5 linked regions of the Homo sapiens genome follow. The protein of the gene in region 1 purifies or fractionates together with the protein of each later gene. This does not show direct contact. Each region holds a gene or a part of one and is shown in the gene's direction. Other genes may lie near its edges.

The links.
Region 2: the proteins of RGPD8 (region 1) and EXOC3 purify together in Homo sapiens (co-immunoprecipitation; one large-scale study listed by IntAct). This does not show direct contact.
Region 3: the proteins of RGPD8 (region 1) and USP33 purify together in Homo sapiens (co-immunoprecipitation; one large-scale study listed by IntAct). This does not show direct contact.
Region 4: the proteins of RGPD8 (region 1) and RIC3 purify together in Homo sapiens (co-immunoprecipitation; one large-scale study listed by IntAct). This does not show direct contact.
Region 5: the proteins of RGPD8 (region 1) and WASHC3 purify together in Homo sapiens (co-immunoprecipitation; one large-scale study listed by IntAct). This does not show direct contact.

Annotation. Positions count from the first base shown.
Region 1 is NC_000002.12:112,422,619-112,427,522, reverse strand, and holds part of RGPD8 (RANBP2-like and GRIP domain-containing protein 8), read left to right. Parts: intron 1-3,215; coding exon 3,216-3,283; intron 3,284-4,863; coding exon 4,864-4,904.
Region 2 is NC_000005.10:449,127-454,030, forward strand, and holds part of EXOC3 (exocyst complex component 3), read left to right. Parts: intron 1-4,243; coding exon 4,244-4,904. UniProt on the Homo sapiens protein: Component of the exocyst complex involved in the docking of exocytic vesicles with fusion sites on the plasma membrane.
Region 3 is NC_000001.11:77,696,963-77,701,049, reverse strand, and holds part of USP33 (ubiquitin carboxyl-terminal hydrolase 33), read left to right. Parts: intron 1-3,118; coding exon 3,119-3,187; intron 3,188-3,575; coding exon 3,576-3,733; 3' UTR 3,734-4,087. UniProt on the Homo sapiens protein: Deubiquitinating enzyme involved in various processes such as centrosome duplication, cellular migration and beta-2 adrenergic receptor/ADRB2 recycling.
Region 4 is NC_000011.10:8,104,933-8,108,571, reverse strand, and holds the end of RIC3 (protein RIC-3 isoform a precursor), read left to right. Parts: 3' UTR 1-2,516; downstream 2,517-3,639. UniProt on the Homo sapiens protein: Molecular chaperone which facilitates proper subunit assembly and surface trafficking of alpha-7 (CHRNA7) and alpha-8 (CHRNA8) nicotinic acetylcholine receptors.
Region 5 is NC_000012.12:102,011,341-102,015,070, reverse strand, and holds the end of WASHC3 (WASH complex subunit 3), read left to right. Parts: intron 1-1,878; coding exon 1,879-1,963; 3' UTR 1,964-2,231; downstream 2,232-3,730. UniProt on the Homo sapiens protein: Acts as a component of the WASH core complex that functions as a nucleation-promoting factor (NPF) at the surface of endosomes, where it recruits and activates the Arp2/3 complex to induce actin polymerization, playing a key role in the fission of tubules that serve as transport intermediates during endosome sorting.

The DNA of each region.
Region 1 (4,904 bases):
TTTCAGCCCTGCATCAGTTCTTGATATTTGGCAGCTTAAGTGAATTCAGGTATTTGCTTATAGTGACATCTGCTGTCATGTAAAGAAGTACTGCTTGCATCAGATATTGTCCTGTTTACATAACATGGGCTGTGCTCCTTTCTAGCTGTATATCTTTAAACAAGGCATTTGTCTGCTTGAGCTTCAGTTCCCTTGTAAAGTGAGCAGGTTAGAGGCAAAAGATCATATAGAAGAATAATTTGTAAAGTTGTTTAATTATCTTAAGATTGTCTACTTTAATAACATAGTTGGAAGCAAAGAAGGTAATGGAATTATTTTTCTATTATGTTTTAACATAGTTGGAAGCAAAGAAGGTAATGGAATTATTTTTCTATTATGTTTTGGCATTGTACCTTGAATCTATTTCTTCATTTTGAAAAGGGGGAACTGGCCGGGCTCGGTGGCTGATGCCTGTAATCCCAGCACTTTGGGAGGCGGAAGAAGTCAGATCACAAGGTCGAGAGATCGACACCATCTTGGCCAACATGGTGAAACCCCATCTCTACTGAAAATACAAAAATTAGCTGGGCATGGTGGCGTGCGCCTGTAGTCCCAGCTTGTACCCGGGACGCAGAGGTTGCAGTGAGCTGAGATCGAGCCACCGCACTCCAGCCTGGCGACAGAGCAAGACTCCATCTCAAAAAAAAAAAAAAAAAGGAAGGGGGGAACAGGACTTGTTCCTTTATGTGCTGTCCTGACTGTTGTGTATTATTTTTGTTAAGATTGCTATAGTTCTTTTTTTTTTTGAGACGGAGTCTTGCTCTGTCGCCAGTGCTGGGATTGCAGGTGTTAGCCTGGCATTGAGCAAGGTTTTGTAATTTAAGCATACAAGTCTCTCACCTCCTTGTTTACATTTATTCCCAGGCATTTTTTTCTTTTAGATGCGATTGTAAATGGAATTGCTTTCTTAATTTCATTTTCTGATTGTTCGTTGCTGGTACAGTAGTCCCTTCTTATCCACAGTATTGCCTTACGTGGTTTTACTTACCTGCGTCACCCGTGGTCCAAAAATATTGAATGGAAGATTATATAAATAAACATTTCATGAGTTTTAAATTGCAAACAGGTCTGAATAACATGATAAAAATCTCACGGCCTCCTGCTCCGTCCTACCCAGGACACGAATCATCCCTTTGTCCAACATATTCATGCTGTATGTGCTCCCCACCCGCTAGTTACATACTAGCCACCTCAGTTATCAGATCAGTTGTTGGAGTATTGCAGTGCTTGTGTTCAAGTGACCTTTATTTTATTTAAAATGGCACCAAAGAGCAAGAATAGCGATGCTGGCAGTTCACATATGCCAGAGAGAAGCCATATAGTGCTTCCTTTAAGTGAAGAGGTGAGTTTTTGACTTAGGAAAGAAAAAAGATCATATACTGGGGTTGCTGAGATCTATGGTAAGAACAAATCTTTTGTCCATGAAATTGTGAAGAAGGAAAAAGAAATTTGTGCTAGTTTTGTTGTGACACCCCAAACTGCAAAAGTTACAGCCACAGTGTGTGATAAGTGCTTAGTTGAGATGGACAAGACATTAAATTTGTGGGTGGAGGACACAAACAGGAAACATGTTTCGATTGATGGCAACCTGGTTTGGTACTATTCATCGTTTTGGACATTCACTGGGGTCTTGGAATTTCAAAAATAAGATGTTTGAGTAGCTGTATACTCTATCACATGGATGGAACATACTCTGGTTGTATCAGCATTTTTTTTTTTTTTTTTTTGAGATGGAATCATTCTGTTGCCCAGGTTGGAGTTCAGTGGTGCGATCTTGGCCCACTGCAGCCTCTGCCTCCCGGGTTCAAGTGATTCTTTGCCTCAGCCTCCCAAGCAGCGGGGATTACAGGCGTGTGCCACCATGCCCAGCTAATTTTTGTATTTTTAGTAGAAAGGAGGTTTCTGTATGTTGGCCAGGCTGGTCTCGAACTCTTGGCTTCAAGTGATCCACCCGCCTCAGTCTCCGAAAGTGCTGGGATTACAGGTGTGAGCCACCGCACCCAGCCTGGTGTGCATCAGCATTTTGGACTTTGGAGTTTATGTAACCAAGGATCCAGGCTGTGGACCTCGTTTATTACTTGAAGAATTCAATATTTATTTCTGCCTTTTTGACTCCTTGACTGTAAAATACTGATCTGATCTGTAGAGAGAACAGTACATGGACCCGGGAATCCTCAGTGCCTTAATAGATCCTAAGTACTTATTTATTCTTTCCCATAGAGGCTTACACATGGTAGGAGAAGAGATTTCTGGAATACCTTTCCTCCCCAAAGAAAGCTGGTTTCTTTTGTTTGTTAAGTGAGAGAGTGGTACCACAGGGTTTCCGAGATTTCCAAGGCTGATGAAAATTCTTAACTTCTGTTGTCTGCTTGTCTTGCTTTCTTGAATTTATTTTTTGTATGTTATGTATTTATTATTTAGAGAGAGGATCTCCCTGTGTCACCCAGGCTGGAGTGCAGTGTCACAGTCATAACTCACGGCAGTGTCAACCTCCTGGGCTCAAGTGATTCTCCTTCCTTGGCCTCCTGAGTAGCTAGGAACACAGGCATGCTCCACTATGCCTGGCTATTTTTTTCCCCCTGGAGACAGGATCTTGTTGTGTTGCACAGGCTGGTTTCAAACTCTTGGCCTCAAAGCTAGCCTCCCACCTTGGTCTCTGAAAGTGCTAGAATTAAATAGAATTAAAGGTGTGACCAACTGCACCCAGCTTATTTATGATGATGATGATGATGATGATGATGATGATGTTTGGGAGATGGAGTCTCTGTCGCCCAGGCTGGAGTGCAATGGCACGATCTCAGCTGACTGCAACCTCTGGCTCACTGCAACCTCCACCTCCTGGGTTCAACTGATTTTTGTGCCTTAGCCTCCTGAGTAGCTGGGATTACAGGCACCCGCCATCATGCCTGGCTAATTTTTCTATTTTTGTAGAGACGGGGTTTCACCATGTTAGCCAGGCTGGTCTCAAACTCCTGACCTCAGGTGATCCGCCCACTTCGGCCTCCCAAAGTGCTGGGATTACAGGCATGAGCCGCTGCACCCAGCTCTATTTTTTGTTTTGTGGTAGGAAATTATAAAACATGGAATTATGCATTTGTCAGGCTTTAACTACTTTTGAAAAAATGTTGGAAAATATTTCTGTATGAAACATAAAACAACTTTTAATTTTTTTTTAGAAGTCAATGAAAGGATTCTATTTTGCAAAGCTGTATTATGAAGCTAAAGAATATGATCTTGCTAAAAAGTAAGTACAAACCGTAACATGTATTCTTTTTTTTAAAATCAATGCCTTTTCTCATTTTCTTCTTTGAAATAGGTAAAAATATGTTCTTAGTAGTTCTTCCTAAGTGTATTCTGGAATAAGGGATTTATCACTCAGACTGATGCTAAGGACCAGCCTAGATTCCATTGAGATTGAAACTGCAATTAGTGTTTTCTGCATGCTGCTGCTTTATACCAAGGGCAAGAAATTGTTTGGCTTAAAACACTTTTTCTAAAAATTGTCTTCTGTTGGAGTAAAAGAGGACCATGCCTATATCTTAATTTGTTTTTGGTTAGATATCTGATACCTTAATCAGATGGAAAATAGCAATGAATAAAAAACTAAACTGTAATTGTAAGGCAGGAGAATAGCTTGTATAAAAGATCTTTAATTGACACAATATGTGATGCTGTAAGGCTCTATCCTAGGGATAAGAAGCTTGGTGATTCTGATTTCCTGGCTGGGAGTGGATTAAAGCAGGAAATTAAGAGGGAGGCAGGCTTTTTTTTTTTTTTAGGCAGTATCTGTCTCTCTTGCTCCGGCTGGAGTGCAGCAGCTGGCTCCATCTTTGCTCACTGTAACCTCTGCCTTCTGGGCTCAAGCGATCTTCCCACCTCAGCGCCCCAAGTAGCTGGGGATACAGATGCGCACCACCACGTGGACCTGGCTAAGGTTTGCATTTTTTGGTAGAGACAGGTGTCACTATGTTGCCCAGGCTAGTCTTGAACTTCTGAGCACAGCAGTCTGCCTGCCTCGGCCTCCCATAGTGTTGGGACTACAGGTGTGTGTTACTGCTCCCAGCTGGGAGGCAGGCTTTTAAAGGCATCCAAAGGAAGATGGAAATGCTGGTAAGAAAGGAAAATGGTGGTACATAAATTATGTAACTAGCAGCACTGTGACTGTTAACTCTTGTACCTTTTTACTGTGAGACTTTAATCCCTTAGTTTAGGTCTGGCCTAATTTCTCTGATCGTAATACTGTCAAGGAACCTAGAGGATATTTACTTATTTTAGTTGTTACTTGATTTGAGAAATGGAAATTTCCTGTATTTGGTACTGTAATTAGTAATTTTTCTTCTGTTCGATTTTAGCTGGATATAGTACTGTTAGAAATTACTTTCTTGCTTAAAGGGTAAATGTATTTCCCTTTGTTGTTTGGGAAATTGTTGCTGTTTAGTATTTTGCATTATGATAACTTTAAAAATGTTTATTATAATCACTTCTAATTTATTGGCAAAACTGTTAGTGCTTTATTAAAATGTGATCAGGAAGAAAAAGCAATCTATATGTTCATTTCTTATGTGTGGTTAACACTGGAGAAAAATTTGGTAAATGTGACATTTAATGGTAAAATGAGTATGTGGTCAACTCTATGTACGTGTTTTTAAGTATTACCCATTTCTTTCTATGAATACTTTTGAGTTATCTGCATAAATAGTGGTAGTTTTGAGTAACAATATAAACGAGTTTAGTGGTTGCTTTGGTTTAAGATGTATTCTTCGGTTAGCATTTAAAAGTACAGTTCTAAGTTTAATTTACTTTTGTATTACTTTTAAAAAACAGATACATATGTACTTACATTAATGTGCAAGAGAGGGATCCCA
Region 2 (4,904 bases), on another chromosome or scaffold:
AATTTCCTTTCCTTGGTGAACAAATGAGCCTGCGTGGTATGCATGTTTTTTGTTACGGATAAATTTTCATTGAGAAGATTGGTTTGGTTGCCTTCAGACTTGTCTCATTGCCTATAACTCAGCAATGCTGTGTACACAGCTCCCCTCCCCCATTTTTTCTTCTTCTAAAATGCATATGTACAGTTTGCCGTCTTAACCATTTTTAAGTGTACAGTTGGGGACTATTAAGAACATTCATATTGTTGTGCAACCATTGCCACATCCGTCTTCAGAACTCTTTTCATCTTGCAGACATGAAAATCTGTACCCATTAAACACTGACTTCGCACCCTCTGCCCCAGCTCCTGGTCACCACCATTCTGCCTTCTGTCTCTGTGAATTGGATGACTCTGAAGACCTCATAGAAGTGGCATCACACATTATCTGTCTTTCTGTGACATGCTTATTTCACTCAGCATGATGTCCTCAGGGGTCTTCTATGCTGTGGTATTGTAGAATTTCCTTCACTTTTAAGGCTGAATAATATTCCATTGTATGGATGGACCACATTTTGCTTATCCGTTTGTCTGTTGGTGGACATTTGAATTGCTTCCACGTTTTAGCTATTGTGAATAATGCTGTAGTGAACATGGGTGTACAGATGTTTTACTTTTATTTCTTTCTGGTATATACACACAAGTGTAATTGCTGGACCATGTGGTAATTTATGTTTAAATCTTTGAGCAGCTGCCAGACTGTTTCCTCCGGTGGCTGCAGCATTTTCCACCATGAGTGTGTGAGGTTTCTGATTCGTCTGCATTTTCATTCTTCTCTTAGGTTTTTAAAAATATCCCTTATGGCTGGGTGCGGTGGCTCACGCCCGTCATCCCAGCACTTTGGAAGGCTGAGGCAGGCGGATCACCTGAGGTCAGGAGTTTGAGACCAGCCCGGCCAACATGGTGAAACCCCGTCTCTACTAAAAATATAAAAATTAGCCGGGCGTGGTGGCAGGCGCCTGTAATCCCAGCTACTCAGGAGGCTGAGGCAGGAGAATCACTTGAACCCAGGAGGCAGAGGTCACAGTGAGCCGAGATCGCACCACTGCACTCCAGCCAGGGGGACAAGAGCGAGACTTCATCTGAAAAACAAAACAAAACAAAACAAAAGTCCCTTATGTTTCCTTTTTTGCCCCATTAATTGTTTAAGAGTATGTTGTTTAATTTCCACAAATTGGTGAATTTTACAGTTTTCCTTCTGATACTGATTTCTAATGTCATCTGTTGAGTTTGGAGAAGATACTTTGTATGATATTTATCTTTTAAAAACCTGAGTCTTAATTTGAGGCCTAATCCATGGTCTTTCCTGAAGACTGTCCCATGTGCACGTGAGAATAGTGTGTGTTCTGTTGTTGGGTGTTCTTTCTGTGTCTGTTCAGTCTGGTTGGTTGGTTGCATTGTTCAAGTCCTCTCTTTCCTTGTTTAGCTTCTGTCTGCTTGTTCTGTCCATTATTGAGAGAGAGATATTGAAGCCTCCGACTATTACAGAACTGAATGTTTTTCCCTTCAGTTCTATCCATTTTTGCTTCATGTATTTTGACGGTCTGTTAGTAAATGCAGAAATATTTATAATTGTTACATCTTCTTGCTGAACCTTCTATTAATACATATGGCCTTCTTTGTGACTAGTTTTTTTTTTTTTAATTTAAAGTATATTTCATATTTATTAGTATAACCACTCCTGTTCTCTTTTGGTTATTATTTATATGGAATATCTTTTTCCACCCTTTTACTTTCAACCTATTTGTGTCTTGGGCTCTAAGGTCAGTCTCTGGTGAACACATAGAGTTGAATCATGTTTTATTTTTTAAATCTATTTTGTCTACCTCTTTTGATTGAAGATTTTAATTAATTTTGCCTACCTCTTTTGATGGAAGAGCTTACATTTAAGTGATTACTGATAAGAAGGGACTTCTGTCATTTTGCTGTTTGTTTTCTATATGCGGTATAACATTTTTGTCTCTTATTTCTGCATTTTTTTTGTGCTTTTGATTATTTTGGTAGTAAACATTTTAATTCCCTTGTTTCTTTTGCGTATATTCTATAGCTGTTTTCTTTGTGCCTACCATAAAGATTACACTTAACATCTAACATTATCTCGCTTCAGTTTGAATTTATATCAACTTAACTTCAATAACACACAAAAACCGTCCCTATATGGCTTCATCTCCACTCCCTTTGGGTTGTTCATTTCACAAAATTACATCTTTATATATCATGTGTCCAAAATCATAGACTAATAATTGTTTTTTAATGCATTCATTTTTAAAAATTAGGTAGAAAACAATGTGGAGTTAGAATCCAAAGTTACAGTATTAGTAGCTTTTAGACTATTTTTTAATGTATTAGTTTCTTTTTTATTTGTCCCTTTTAACCAGAACAAATATTAGTCTCTTAAGTCATGTACGAAACAGAGTGATGAGTTAAAAACTGAAGTGTTAATGATACTAGATTTTACGATTGTCCATGAATTTACCTTTTTTGAGGCCTTTGCTTCTTCACGTGGCTTCCAGTTGCTCTCTAGCATTCTTTCTTCTCAACCAGTGGGACTCTATTTAAGCATTTCTTGCAGGGCAGATCTTGTGGTAACAAGCTTTTCAGCTTTTGTTTATCTGGGGATGTCTTAATATCGCTCTCACTTTTGAATGACCATTTTGCTAGATTTAAGGTTCTTGGTTGACAGTATTTTTCTTTTAGCACTTTGAATATGTCATCCCACTGCCTCTGGCCTCCAAAGTTTCTGGTGAGAAATCTGATCTGCTCATAATCTTATTTTGGAGCCCTTGTTTCTGACAAGTTGCTGCTTTCAGAATTCTTTCAAAAGTTTGATTAAGTTGTATCTTAGTGTGGACCTCTGAGTTCCTCTTGCTTGGAGGTCATTGAGCTTCTTGGATCTTCATATTCATGTCTTTCATCAAATGTGGGGAGTTTTCACCTATTATTTCTTCAAATAATGTCTTGCCCATTTCTCTCTTCTCCTTCTAAAAGTCCCACTAAGCATATGTTGGCCTGCTTGATGATGTCCACAAGGTCCCTGAGGCTCTGTTCACTTTTCTTCAATCTTTTTTCTTTCTGTTCCGGATACTTGATATTTCCCATTGTCCTGTCTTCACATTCACTGATTCTTTCTTGCGCCTGTGCAGATCTGCCTTTGAATCCCTTTAGTGAATTTTTCATTTCATTTATTGTACTTTTCAGCTTCATATTTTCTGTTTGGTTTCCTTTTGGATTTTCTGTCTCATTATTGGTATTTCCATTTTGCTCATACATGTCTTTCTTCACATCTTTAAGTTCCTTAGGCATCTTTAAATCGTTGTTTTAAAGTCTTTCTCTAGTAGATCTGCCATCAGATCTTTTACAGGAACAGTTTCTTATGTTTTCCTTTGAATGGGCCATACTTTCTTCTTTCTTTGGGTGCCTTGTGATGTTTTTGTTGTTGAAAAATGGACACTTGAATCGAATAATGTGATAACTCTGGAAATCAGATCCCCTTCCCAGGTTGATGATTCTTGTTTTTGGTTGTTGTAGGCTCTCTGTGCCAAGGCACAGCCTGAGGTGTGAACTTCAAGGTCGTGTCAAGTCTTTTCTGAGCCTATGCCTTTGCCTGGGCATGCATTGGCCACTTCCGAATTTTTCCTATAAATGCAGTTACTTTTGAATGTCTTCATTCATAAATATCTGGCTTTCAAGAAGGGGAACAGATGAAGGGGGTGGTGAAGACATTGGCCCTTTAAATTCCCTGGAGCTCTGTGGGGGTGAGGAGGGACCTGTGAACAGGGGAAGATGCAACAGTGGCCACTTACCTCTTCGCACCTCTGTGGTCAGAAGCAGCAGTCAGTGATCTGAGTACAGATCTCCGGTGTGGAGGACAGGGTTCTTTTTGCCCAGCCAGGCTGCAGGCTGTGTGCAGGCAGCTTTAGGAACACATCAGCACATGCACAGCTGCCTGCGGGGTGGGAGGTGGGGCCTCGGTAGCCACTGCCCAGCTGAGAGCTGCAAATGACCACAGTTAACCACAGTTTACCATTTATGCCTTTAATAGACTCCAGAGTTCCAAAGATAGTTACCTCAGACACATCCTGCCATTGCAGTTGTTGTTAGCTAGGGAGATGTGGCTTCCTGCTCTGCCGTGTTCCCAGAACACCGCATGCAGGCAGCCTTTTATGTGGTGGTGGTTGTTTATGTTGTGTCTTGTGCCTTCTCCCTAGTGCCTGAGATTGTGAGGGAGACCCAGGACCTAATTGAACAAGGGGCACTCCTGCAAGCCCACCGGAAGCTGATGGACCTGGAGTGCTCCCGGGACGGGCTGATGTACGAGCAGTACCGCATGGACAGTGGGAACACGCGTGACATGACCCTCATCCATGGCTACTTTGGCAGCACGCAGGGGCTCTCTGATGAGCTGGCTAAGCAGCTGTGGATGGTGCTGCAGAGGTCACTGGTCACTGTCCGCCGTGACCCCACCTTGCTGGTCTCAGTTGTCAGGATCATTGAAAGGGAAGAGAAAATTGACAGGCGCATACTTGACCGGAAAAAGCAAACTGGCTTTGTTCCTCCTGGGAGGCCCAAGAATTGGAAGGAGAAAATGTTCACCATCTTGGAGAGGACTGTGACCACCAGAATTGAGGGCACACAGGCAGATACCAGAGAGTCTGACAAGATGTGGCTTGTCCGCCACCTGGAAATTATAAGGAAGTACGTCCTGGATGACCTCATTGTCGCCAAAAACCTGATGGTTCAGTGCTTTCCTCCCCACTATGAGATCTTTAAGAACCTCCTGAACATGTACCACCAAGCCCTGAGCACGCGGATGCAGGACCTCGCATCGGAAGACCTGGAAGCCAATGAGATCGTGAGCCTCTTGACGTG
Region 3 (4,087 bases), on another chromosome or scaffold:
TAAAATTGTATGACAATATTTAATAATATGAAAATAAGATATTCTGATATGTGCCAGGCACGGTGGCTCACGCCCATAATCCCAAAAGTTTGGGAGGCTGACGTGGGTGGATCACCTGACGTCAGGAGTTCAAGACCAGCCTGAAACATAGTGAAACCCTGTCTCTACTAAAAATACAAAAATTAGCTGGGTGTGGTGGCAGTCACCTGTAATCCCAGCTACTCAGGAGGCTGAGGCAGGAGAATTGCTTGAATCCACGAGGCGGAGGCTGCAGTGAACTGAGATCATGCCACTGTACTCCAGCCTGGGTGACAGAGCAAGACTTTGTCTTTAAAAAAAAAAAAAAAAAAAAGATTCTGATATGTGAAAAAGGCTGCAACAATATGCCTAGTTAAAGCTTTTTGTATTTATGTATTTACTTTTTAAAATTTTAAATTAATAGAGACAAGGTCTTAACCCTGTTGCCCAGGTTTAAGTACAGCAGCATGATTATGGCTCACTGCAGCCCTGAACTCTCAGCCCATGCGATCCTCCTACCTCCATCTCCTGAGTAGTTGGGACTACAGGCATGTACTACCACACTTGGCTAATTTAAAAATTATTTTTTACAATTATTTGTAGAGACATGGTCTCACAGTGTTGCCCAGGAACTCCTGGGCTCAAGCAGTGCACCAACCTTGGCCTCCCAAAGTGCTGAATTACTGAGTTCTCTCTGTATTGTCCAGGCTGGCCTCAAACTCCTGGGCTCCAGCGATCCTCTTGCTTCAGCCTCCTGAGTAGCTGGGACTATAGGTGCACACCACCATATCTGGCTTTTCTACACCTTTAAAAAAATTTATTTTTATTTTGTAAGTTCCAGCATACATGTGCAGGATGTGCAGGTTTGTTACATAGGTAAACATGTGCCATGGCGATTTGCTCCACCTATCAACCCATTACCTAGGTATCAAGCCCAGCATGCATTAGCTGTTTTTCCTGTTGTTCTCCCACCCCTCATCCCTCAACCCCCACCAACAGGCCCTAGTGTGTGTTCTCCTCCCTGTGTCCTTGTGTTCTTGTTGTTCAGCCCCCACTTATAAGTGAGAACATGCAGTGTTTGGTTTTCTGTTCTTGCATTAGTTTGCTGAGGATAATGGCTTCCAGCTCCATCCATGTCCCTGCATAGGACATGATCTCTTTCCTTTTTATGGCTGCGTAGTATTCCATAGTGTATATTTACCACATTTTCTTTATCCAGTCTATCATAGATGGGCATTTGGGTTGATTCCTTATCTTTGCTATTGTGAATAGTGCTGCCATGAACATATGTGTGCATGTATCTTTATAATAGAATGAATTGTGTTCTTTTGGATATATACCCAGTAATGGGATTGCTGGGTCAAATGGTATTTCTGGTTCTAGGTCTTTGAGGAATTGCCACACTGTCTTCCACAATGGTTGAACTAATTTACATTCCCACCAACAGTGTAAAAGTGTTCCCATTTCTCCACAGCCTCGCCAGCATCTCTTGTTTCTTGACTCTCTCTTTTTTTTGAAAAAGAGGCTCACTTTGTCACTCAGGCTGGAGTGGAGTGGCGTGATCTCAGCTCATTGCAACCTCCTCCTGGGTTCAGACGATTGTCCTGCCTCAGCGTCCTGAGTAGCTGGGATTACAGGTGCCGCTGTCATGCCTGGCTAATTTTTCTATTTTTAGTAGAGATGGGGTTTCACCATGTTAGCCAGGTTGGTCTCAAACTCCTGATCTCAAGTGAGCCACCTGCCTCGGCCTCCCAAAGTGGTGGGATTACAGGCATAAGCCACTGGGCCCAGCCTGTTTCTTGACTTTTTAATAACTGGCATTCTGACTGATGTGACATGGTATCTCATTGTGGTTTTGATTTGTGTTTCTCTAATGATCAGTGATGTTGATCTTTTTTTCATGTTTTTTTGGCCACATAAATGTCTTCTTTTGAGAAGTGTTCATGTTCTTTGTCCACTTTCTAATTGGGTTTTTTTAATTGTAAATTTGTTTAAGTTGCTTTTACAACTTTTGATGATGACCATGCGGTTCACTTTTGCCTTAAATTTTAAAAAGAATGTATTTAAACGGTTTCTTTTATAATGCTTTTATTGTTCTTAATGTTACTTTGATAATCTGAAGCAAATTAATTGTATAATTTCTTTCAAATTACAAAGGAATTGCTATTTTATAGCATTAGTGGTACATTTTGACTTGTAATCCCCAAATGGAGAGTTAAAAAATAATTTCTGGGCCGGGCGTGGTGGCTCATGCCTGTCATCCCAGCACTTTGGGAGGCCGAGGGGGGTGGATCACGAGGTCAGGAGATCAAGACCATCCTGGCTAACACGGTGAAACCCCATCTCTACTAAAAATACAAAAAATTAGCTGGGCGTGGTGGTGGGTGCCTGTAGTCCCAGCTACTCGGGAGGCTGAGGCAGGAGAATGGCATGAACCTGGGAGGCGGAGCTTGCAGTGAGCCGAGATGATGCCACTGCACTCCAGCCCTTGGCAACAGAGCGAGACTCCGTCTCAAAAAAAAAAAAAAAAACAAAACATTTCTGTTAAACTGTGATGGTTGTGAACGAGCCTCTCTTACCTTCTTTCCTGGTTCTGTTTTGGGGGAACTAAGAACTAAAAACGAAGAAGCTCAGGAGAAGACATTAAGAATTAACCATAGGCCAGGTGTAGTGGCTCACGCCTGTAATCCCAGCACTTTGGGAGGCTGAGGTGGGTAGATCGTGAGGTCAGGAGTTCGAGACCAGCCTGACCAACATGGTGAAACTCCCATCTCTACTAAAAAAAAAAAAAAAAGCAAAAATTAGCCGGGCGTGGTGGTGTGTGCCTGTATTCCCAGCTACTCAGGAGGCTGAGGCAGGAGAATCACTTGAACCCAAGGCGGAGGTTGCAGTGAGCTGTGATGGTGCCACTGCACTCCAGCCTGGGCAACAGAGCGAGACTCCATCTCAAAAAAAAAAAAAAAGAATTAACTATAATAATTTGCCTGAGAAATAACCAGTCTGATAATGTAGTTATAGGTCACAATTTTGTCAAGCACAAAATTATGCAATTTTTTGTTACATTTCTTTGAAAAATACATTTTGATATTTTTTCCTTTAGATCCTCCAGGTCCTATTGACAATACTAAGATTGCAGTCACTAAATGTGGTAATGTGATGCTTAGGCAAGGTAAGTTTGACTCGTATTTAAGCTTTTACTTGTGAGTGATTTGTCACTGTTAGAAATATGTTATCATTAGTCATCTATAGTACTTTTTTATTCAACTGAAGAATGTAATCCATACATTAACTAGGGCAAGTAATGAAAAGCAGCCACTTTTTTTTTATCTGAGGAAAGGTCTTAAGGCTGTTGTTAAGAGCAAAGCAAAAGCATCTCTGACTTTTTAAGACAAGCCATATGTTTCAGCTTATAACAATATGGGCTGGTAGTCTGCAGATTCATGTTCCAGAAGTTCTCAATTATCCCGAGAAGATTCATGCTGGGGGGTACATTATGAACGCTTTTGCAATATGAATATATAGGTTTGTAAACATTATTTCTTCTACGTAATTTTAAGGAGCAGATTCTGGCCAGATTTCTGAAGAAACATGGAATTTTCTGCAGTCTATTTATGGTGGAGGGCCTGAAGTTATCCTGCGACCTCCGGTTGTTCATGTTGATCCAGATATACTTCAAGCAGAAGAAAAAATTGAAGTAGAAACTCGGTCTTTGTAATTTTTAGGATGTAGAGAGTTCTAATGAGGAATCATTTTCATGTGCCCTGACATGTACACATGCGAAAACATTCCTAAAAGCGTGTTTATTTGCTTTATTTTTTTTCATCATTTATCCCATTTATTTCTTCTTAGTGGGCATTATGGAAGAATATATTAAAATGTGTAATATACCACAGGTTGGTATATTTAGTTTTAAATACTTACCATAAAGTCTTTCAGTGTAATTTTTTTTTGAGACAGAGTCTTGCTTTGTCACCCAGGCTGGAGTGCTGTGGTGTTACCTCAGCTCACTGCAGCCTCCACCTCCTGGGTTCAAGCGATTCTCCTGCCTCAGCCTCTCGAGTAGCTGGGA
Region 4 (3,639 bases), on another chromosome or scaffold:
GCTTTGGCTTCAGGGTAGTAAAGGGAGGGGTATTAAAGGTCCTGGTTAAATGAAATCATCAGTGTGTGTAAAACAGCATTGGTTCTAGCTCATACATGATAACCACTCATTAAGTGGTAATTATGTTTTTATTATAAGGGCTATGCTGTAATTCAGACATGGGCCCAAAACTACAGGAAAGATAAATTGTTTTTGCTAAAGTATTGCCAAGAAACTTCACAGTTTCTTGGGAGGTGGGCCTTGAGGCATGCAAAGAACTTCTTCAGGTAGGCAAAGAAGAGAGGACACTCTTGGCAGAAAGAGTTGTTGAAAAAAGCAGTAGGGTGTGAAAATACATGGATGTTCAAGTATTTTGGTGAGGCTGTTATGTAAAGTGTTGTTGGTCTTTGGGGAAAATTGGCTTATGGAAATTCCTGCCAGAAGTACTAAGCCCTTATGGTGGTTCTTCCTGCCCTAGCTCTTGGTTGGTTTATATATAAGGAATATATTTGTGTATTTATATATCAGACATTTGGATGTACCTTTCAGTTATTTAGGATTTAGAAAATTCTTTTTGGATTTTCCAGAATTATTTTATCCTTCGGGGATGACAGTTATATGTGTATATACAACCCAGGATGACAAAATCATGGGTCCGGTTTTTGTTGCCAGGGCTGCTGTCTCTTTTCTTGCGGTCTTCATTTCTCACGAGGGTGCTGGGAACTTGATCAGTCCCCTGGCCTTTTGGCACTGTGGCAGAGTACACAAGTCATACCTTTATGGACAGTTAGCTCACAAAACAACTGCATAATCTGGGATCACTCTTGGTAAATCAGGTGGGTGGTGCAGCCAGGAGATCCCCTTTCCTGGTCACAACAGGAGCACAAAGAAACCATTATCTCCATGACTAGCTCCAGAAGCTGGGCCCAGGGAGTCGTGATGAGGAGTGGAGGTGTATTTGGCCTGTAGAATCAACGGCCTTTGAGAACCATACAATGCACCTTATATGGCTTGGGTGATCAAATAACTTAAGGTCCAAATTCAAACACTTTGGAAAAAGGGAGCTTTAATATAATTATGCCAAGGTGATAGGCATAAACTAAGACTGTCCTGGACGTAGGGTCACCCCTGTCTATAGCCATTTAAGATTTTTGAACCTGATGACTAAACAAACAAAACCCTCTTTCCTTTTTAGAATATCCTGTATGCGCTATTTCCCACCAGAGGCAGAGGCCACAGGAGATAGGCCATGGTTCAGGTAGGAAATGCTCTTGGTCACATCAGAACTCTAGATCTGGGGGAATAAACAAACCCGAATTATTACCACACTCTCAAAGTTCTCTTCAATCTGGACTATTTGTATTCCAAAGAAAAATTTAGTGCTTTAGCTATTCAGCAATATTGAGAAAAAACATGAACACATTTATGACTTTGCCTTGACCATTGACTTTTCTAAAATGTGCTTCCTTTTCCTTTATTTCCCTTTTTTTATACAAAGAAAATAGCCCAAATTTCTCCTCTTAGGTCATTCCTTAACCTCTCAGAGAACCAGTTTCCCCATGAATTGGGAATAATGCTCTATTTACAGGGCTGTTTGGATTAAATAAGATGCTGTTTATAAAGTGTCTGTGCCAGGGCAAAGCATGTGGTAGGTGCTTGGTGACAGCATGATCCCTGTCACCACTCTGTCAAGTCCAGTGTTGCTGAGATGTCACACCTGACACCCTCTAAGGCTACCCTGATTGCCAGGAGTGGCCCAGGGCCCTTCTGCAGTCTCCGGGTGCCTTTAGTTATAACCTCTTGTCTGGGTCAGACCATTAGCTTTCATGTCTGCTTCTAGCTACAACTGTAGCCTCCCTTCCTTTTGCCTTCAAATCTGCCACAGCTGCCCGGCAACAAAAAAAGATTCCTAAGCATCTCGAGGTCCTGTTTAAATGGGTTAGGGTCCAAGCAAGCCCTGAGACATCAAGTGGTTGGGTCTTTTATACCTTTTTCATCTCTACAGCCCTGTTCTCTTCCTAAGGCCAGGCCCACAGGGGATACTGAGGAACCACCAGCCCCTTCAGGCGGCACAGCAGACCCTGAAGAGAACTGCTCTAACTTAAGTACCTTCTGACTTCACCATTTTTCCAGCCTCTGGGTGTGGTTCTGATGAACCTTAAACTTGAAAGGCACAGGCCAGAGGAAGGACAGTGTTGACCCACATGTCATTGGTGAGGTTATGATCTCTTTGCTATTATCACCTACTTACCCACCTGAGGCTCCTAGGAAACAATGAATGAAAGGTATAGAAAAAAATTAGGAAGTAAACAGGGCTTTTTTCCCCTTTATGAAAAAAGTACACAGAAGTGTTGAAACGATTCAAGTTTAATTTGTTGATATATGTGTGTACTTAGACAAACACTAAATTCTACAACATACATAATGTCAACATGGGAAAATACCAAGTTTGTCATTGCACATACCAATAAATAAATACATTTGCTCCAGAATACCAAAGTTTATTCAAAAAGTCAATAAAAGCACAGTTTTGCAAATTTGTCTAAAACGCCAGATAATCTTGAACAAAAATAAAATGTCTGACCACTCCAAAATAGGAAAAGACAATCTTGTGCAAATAGACATACACAGTCTAGGCATTGTGAAAACTGGCTGTGTTCCCAGCAAGAGATACTGCACCCTCCTGACCGAGCAGTCAGGCTTCCCTTTCCTAGCCATCCTAAGTTGCGTTCTAGGAAACTCTGGATCTCAGCCTCATCTCCAGCTTTGCCTGGACCTTGCTAGGGGGAGGGAGGGACAGGAGCACAGAGGAGGAGAGGAGAGGGATGTGATGTCTTTCTTAGGAAAGAAAAAAAGGCACAGTGATGAGCTATAAAGGTAGTGATGAGAGCTATAAAGGTAGTGATGAAAGCAAGGAATAATTTTCATTCACCCCAAATCCTACGGCAAGCTTTGACAATGTAACATCTTTATCTTGTGGTTAGGAAAATGGACCTAGAGAGATTATGTGGTTTGCTCAAAATCACATAGCTACTAAGTGCAGTAGTGCTTTCTATAAGACCAACTTGCCTTTCCACTTGGTTGGAAAATTTAAAAACCAAACCTGTCGTAATCTATCTGTTCTGCCCCTCCCGCCTGTATCATGAGATGACTGAAAATTCCAGGTGGCCATAAACTCAAACAAGAGCCTAGCCCTTGGCTTATTACCGGTGGCTACTACAAACCTACAGACCAGAGCCCAGGGTAGTATAGAGTCCCAACTCTGGGCCCTGACTGCAGGTCATTCAGGTCCCAGTCACAGTGAAAGCAGACTCATTCAGCTATCTGGAGAAGTGTAATCTGAGGGCCACTTGGCATCCTGAGTTAACACAGGGATGCCGCAGCTGGGGTAAGGAATTAGAGAAGGGAAGGCCAGTGTTACTGCAGTAAGAGAAAACCAGGAAGTCCATCTAGGAGATGAAATTTGTGCTTGCATAACAGAGCCATGGAAATGGCTATCCCAGCATCTCCCCTCACTGCAGACTCCATTGTAAGCAAAGCATGGACCTTTTTCTTTGAAACCAACCCTGTCACTTGTTAAATTTAGAATTACCTCTAAATGCTAAGTTTATTTAAGAGGTAAATGTCCTGCTATTTTCAGAATGGAGAAAAAAAAAAAAA
Region 5 (3,730 bases), on another chromosome or scaffold:
TCGGCCTCCCAAAGTGCTGGGATTACAGGCATGAATCGACATCCCTGGCCTACCCTTTTCTAAAGTAGCATTTATTTTAGGAAGTTATGTACATTGTTGTATTTGTTTGAGTTGTCATAGGTACTAATACAATTTTGATGTGGTATTAAAATAATTCCCACTGGTAATGTTTTCCTACTTAACAAAGTATAGACAGTAAGAAATCAAATATATAGCAAAGAGAAATTTACTGGGTAAAATGTGCCTAGTATTCATACCCACTAATTCTAGAGTTGTTGCTTCTAATGAAAAGGGAGGAAGATGATGGTCCCATGTTAGTATTTTAGGCAGATGGAGCATCAGTCAAATCCTGGAACTGCTGTACCCAGCTTTAAAGTTTCACTGTATTGACTACATAATGCTTCCTTGTAGATATAATCTAAAATTGTTCAGCAGAGCAAATGGGTTTATATTTGACAACTAGGGAGCAATGCCAGCATTATTTTCTCTTTTGTAGTATGCCAAATATATTTAAAAATATAAGCCATAATTTTAATACCTAAAGTAACTGTTAGACTGTGCATTTTCTTATTTTAGTAATAGTAATTTCTGTTTGTGGTGAATATGAGTTTTATTTTTAAGTGTCCTAAATGTTTAATAAGAGTCAAGCCTGAGGGAGAAATCAGTCTGGTAGTTTGTAATTATTAAGATACAGCAGTTATAGGCCAGGCACGGGCTCGCATCTATAATCCCAGCACTTTGGGAGGCCAGAGCGGGTGGATCACAGGGTCAGGAGATCAAGACCATCCTGGCCAACATGGTGAAATCCCGTCTCTACTGAAAATACAAAAATTAGCTGGGCGTGGTGGCACACACCTCTACTCGGGAGGCTGAGGCAAGAGGATGGCTTGAACCTGGGAGACAGAGGTTGCAGTGAGCCGAGATCACACCATTGCACTTCAGCCTGGTGACAAGAGCGAGACTCCATCTCAAAAAAAAAAAAAAAAAAAAAAAAAGATGTAGCAGTTATATTGTTACTCCTTTTCCTCTTGGTTTCCCCCCCAAAAATACTTTTCTTGCTTAATTTACTTTCTTGGTAAGAGTGAATAGAGGCTAAGTGATAATGCCACTACACTGATTAAATGACTTACTGGCACAAAACTATTGAGGCTTAACTAGTTGACTGTTTTAATAACATCATTAAAATTTCATTTTGGTTTATTAGAGCACATCCATGCAAAGTTGGAATCTAACCATTCTCATGTCTCCTTATAATGCCTAGGGGATCTTTGAAACAGTATTTTTGCCAACTCATACTTTCTATTTTCATTCTGTAAAGATAAAACATGTAAGTGAAAACGTTTAACAAACATTAAGAACCTTCTTCGACCAGGCACTCTCCTTCGCTACAAAATTTCCACATTACCTATTTTTTTATTAGCCATTTTTGAACTCTCTTCCATTTCTAAGTTTCTCCCTGCAGCTTTCCTGAACATGAAGCATTTCCTTTTCTTTTCATTTCTAGCTTTCCTTTCTCTGTACCTCATGTACACTTGGAAGCTTCAGGGACTTAGCACTGGTCATGCCAGCCTCTACAGATCACATCTCTGTCTATAATTGGGTCTCCATGGTAATGAGAAGCAGAAAGTGCTGAAGTAGCGCACTATGTAAGGACTGGCAAGAGAAAATACTGTCGCGGCCTCTACAGGCATAGCATTGAATCCCCATGGTGCCCAAGAAGCCCGAGAGAAGCACGCTGTGGTGTAGAGCAGGAGACTGAGGACACGGACTTGGCAGATTTATTAGCAGCAATATTCTAAGATGAACCAAATTTAAGAGTTTGTAAGTGCTCTTTTCAATTGGAAAAGACCTTTGAAATTTTTTTTTCTTTTCTTTTAGGAGGCCAGATGCTCCAGTGCCTGATGGCGAAAGTGAGAAAACTGTAGAAGAAAGTTCAGATAGCGAATCTTCTTTTAGTGATTAAGCTTAATTTTGATAAGAATTACATATGCATGCATAGGGGTACATTTACATTCTGTAAGAGATTGAGCCTGAACTCTCTTAGTCATAAAAACATCAAATGGCCACATGTCCACTACCAAGCTTCTTCTATGTTAAAAAAATAATAATAAAGCAGTTTTAACCTGCCAGTATGTCTTGTTGCTAAAATAAAGGGCCTCAAAATGAAAAATAGGATAACCTAAATAAAGTACAATTAGTGCTACAAATACTAAGATAGAATATTTTAGAGATGCAATGAGCAATTACAGTCAGGCACGGTGGCTCACGCCTGTAATCCCAGCACTTTGGGAGGCCGAGGCGAGTGGATAACCTGAGGTCAGGAGTTCAAGACCAGCCTGGCCAACATGGTGAAACCTCCATCTCTACTAAAAATACAAAAAGTAGCTGGGCGTGGTGACAAAAATTAGCTGGGCGTAGTGGCAGGTGCCTGTAATCCCAGCTACTCGGGAAGCTGAGGCAGGAGAATCACTTGAACCCAGAAGGTAAAGGTTTCAGTGAGCTGAGATTGCGTCATTGCACTCCAGCCATGGCGACAAGAGTGAAACTCTGTCTTAAAAATAAAAAGAGATGCAATGAGCAATTTTAAATGAAGTCAGTGTGAGTTTAGTGATCAATAGTAGACCCAATGCAAAAAAAAAAAAAAAACAGTGAATTTGGCTAAGTGAATTATTCAATTTTTGTGAATATTTTAGCATGAAAAGTATATGGATTCATATCATGAGTTGTTAAAGACATTTCTGGTAGAAAGTAATACTGGGTTGAAATTTCTTTGACAACTTAAAACTTACATATCACATATGTTATGGGTATGGAACTTTTTGGTAGTATTTTTTAGCATATGCAGCCTTTCACCACTTGGCCATTAGTTCATGTGTTTTTTAAGTCAGATATTCTTATGCAGTCATGCATTGATTAACAACAGGGATATGTTCTGAGAAATGCGTCATTAGGCGGTTTTATTGTACAAACATTGTGGATTTCATAACAAGTGTACTTACACAAACCTATTGCTTCTAGGCTACAAACCTGCACAGCATGTCACTGTACTGAATACTGTAGGCAGTTGTAACACAGTGGTATTTGTGTATCTAAATGTAGAAAAGGTGCAGTCAAATATGGTTTTATAATCTTAGGGGATGTTGACCAAAACATTATGCAGCACTTGACTATATTTATTAGCAGATGGAAATTGAATTGAAGGTCGTTTCAGTGTGGTTCATAATGAGTAACCATCGTTGCCATCAACTCCTGTATTACCTAAACAAAAAAAAATGTGTGCAGGATTAAAATGTTCTCACCTCACCTTGCAAATAAATAATTATTATTCATAGTTATTTACACACAGTCTAGAAAATTCCTAAAGTACTTATGTGAAAAATATATAAATGCATTTAACTAATTGTGCCCATTTTAGTTTAGTTCACCTGCAAGTAGAGCCTGAGAAAAGGACTTGGGTGTATACAGGTCATTCACAAGGTGATCCCAGAAAACAGAAGTAAAAAAACAGGGAGAGGAAAAGGGAGAAAACCACTTAAAAGTTTATTATCGGCCAGGTGAGGTAGCTCATACCTGTAATCCCAGCACTTCGGGATGCTGAGGTAGGTGGATCACTTGAGGTCAGGAGTTTGAGACCAGCCTGGCCAACATGGTGAAACCCTGTGTCTACTAAAAATACAAAATTTAGCCGGGCGTGGTGGCATGCACCTGTACTCCCAGCTACTGGGAGGCT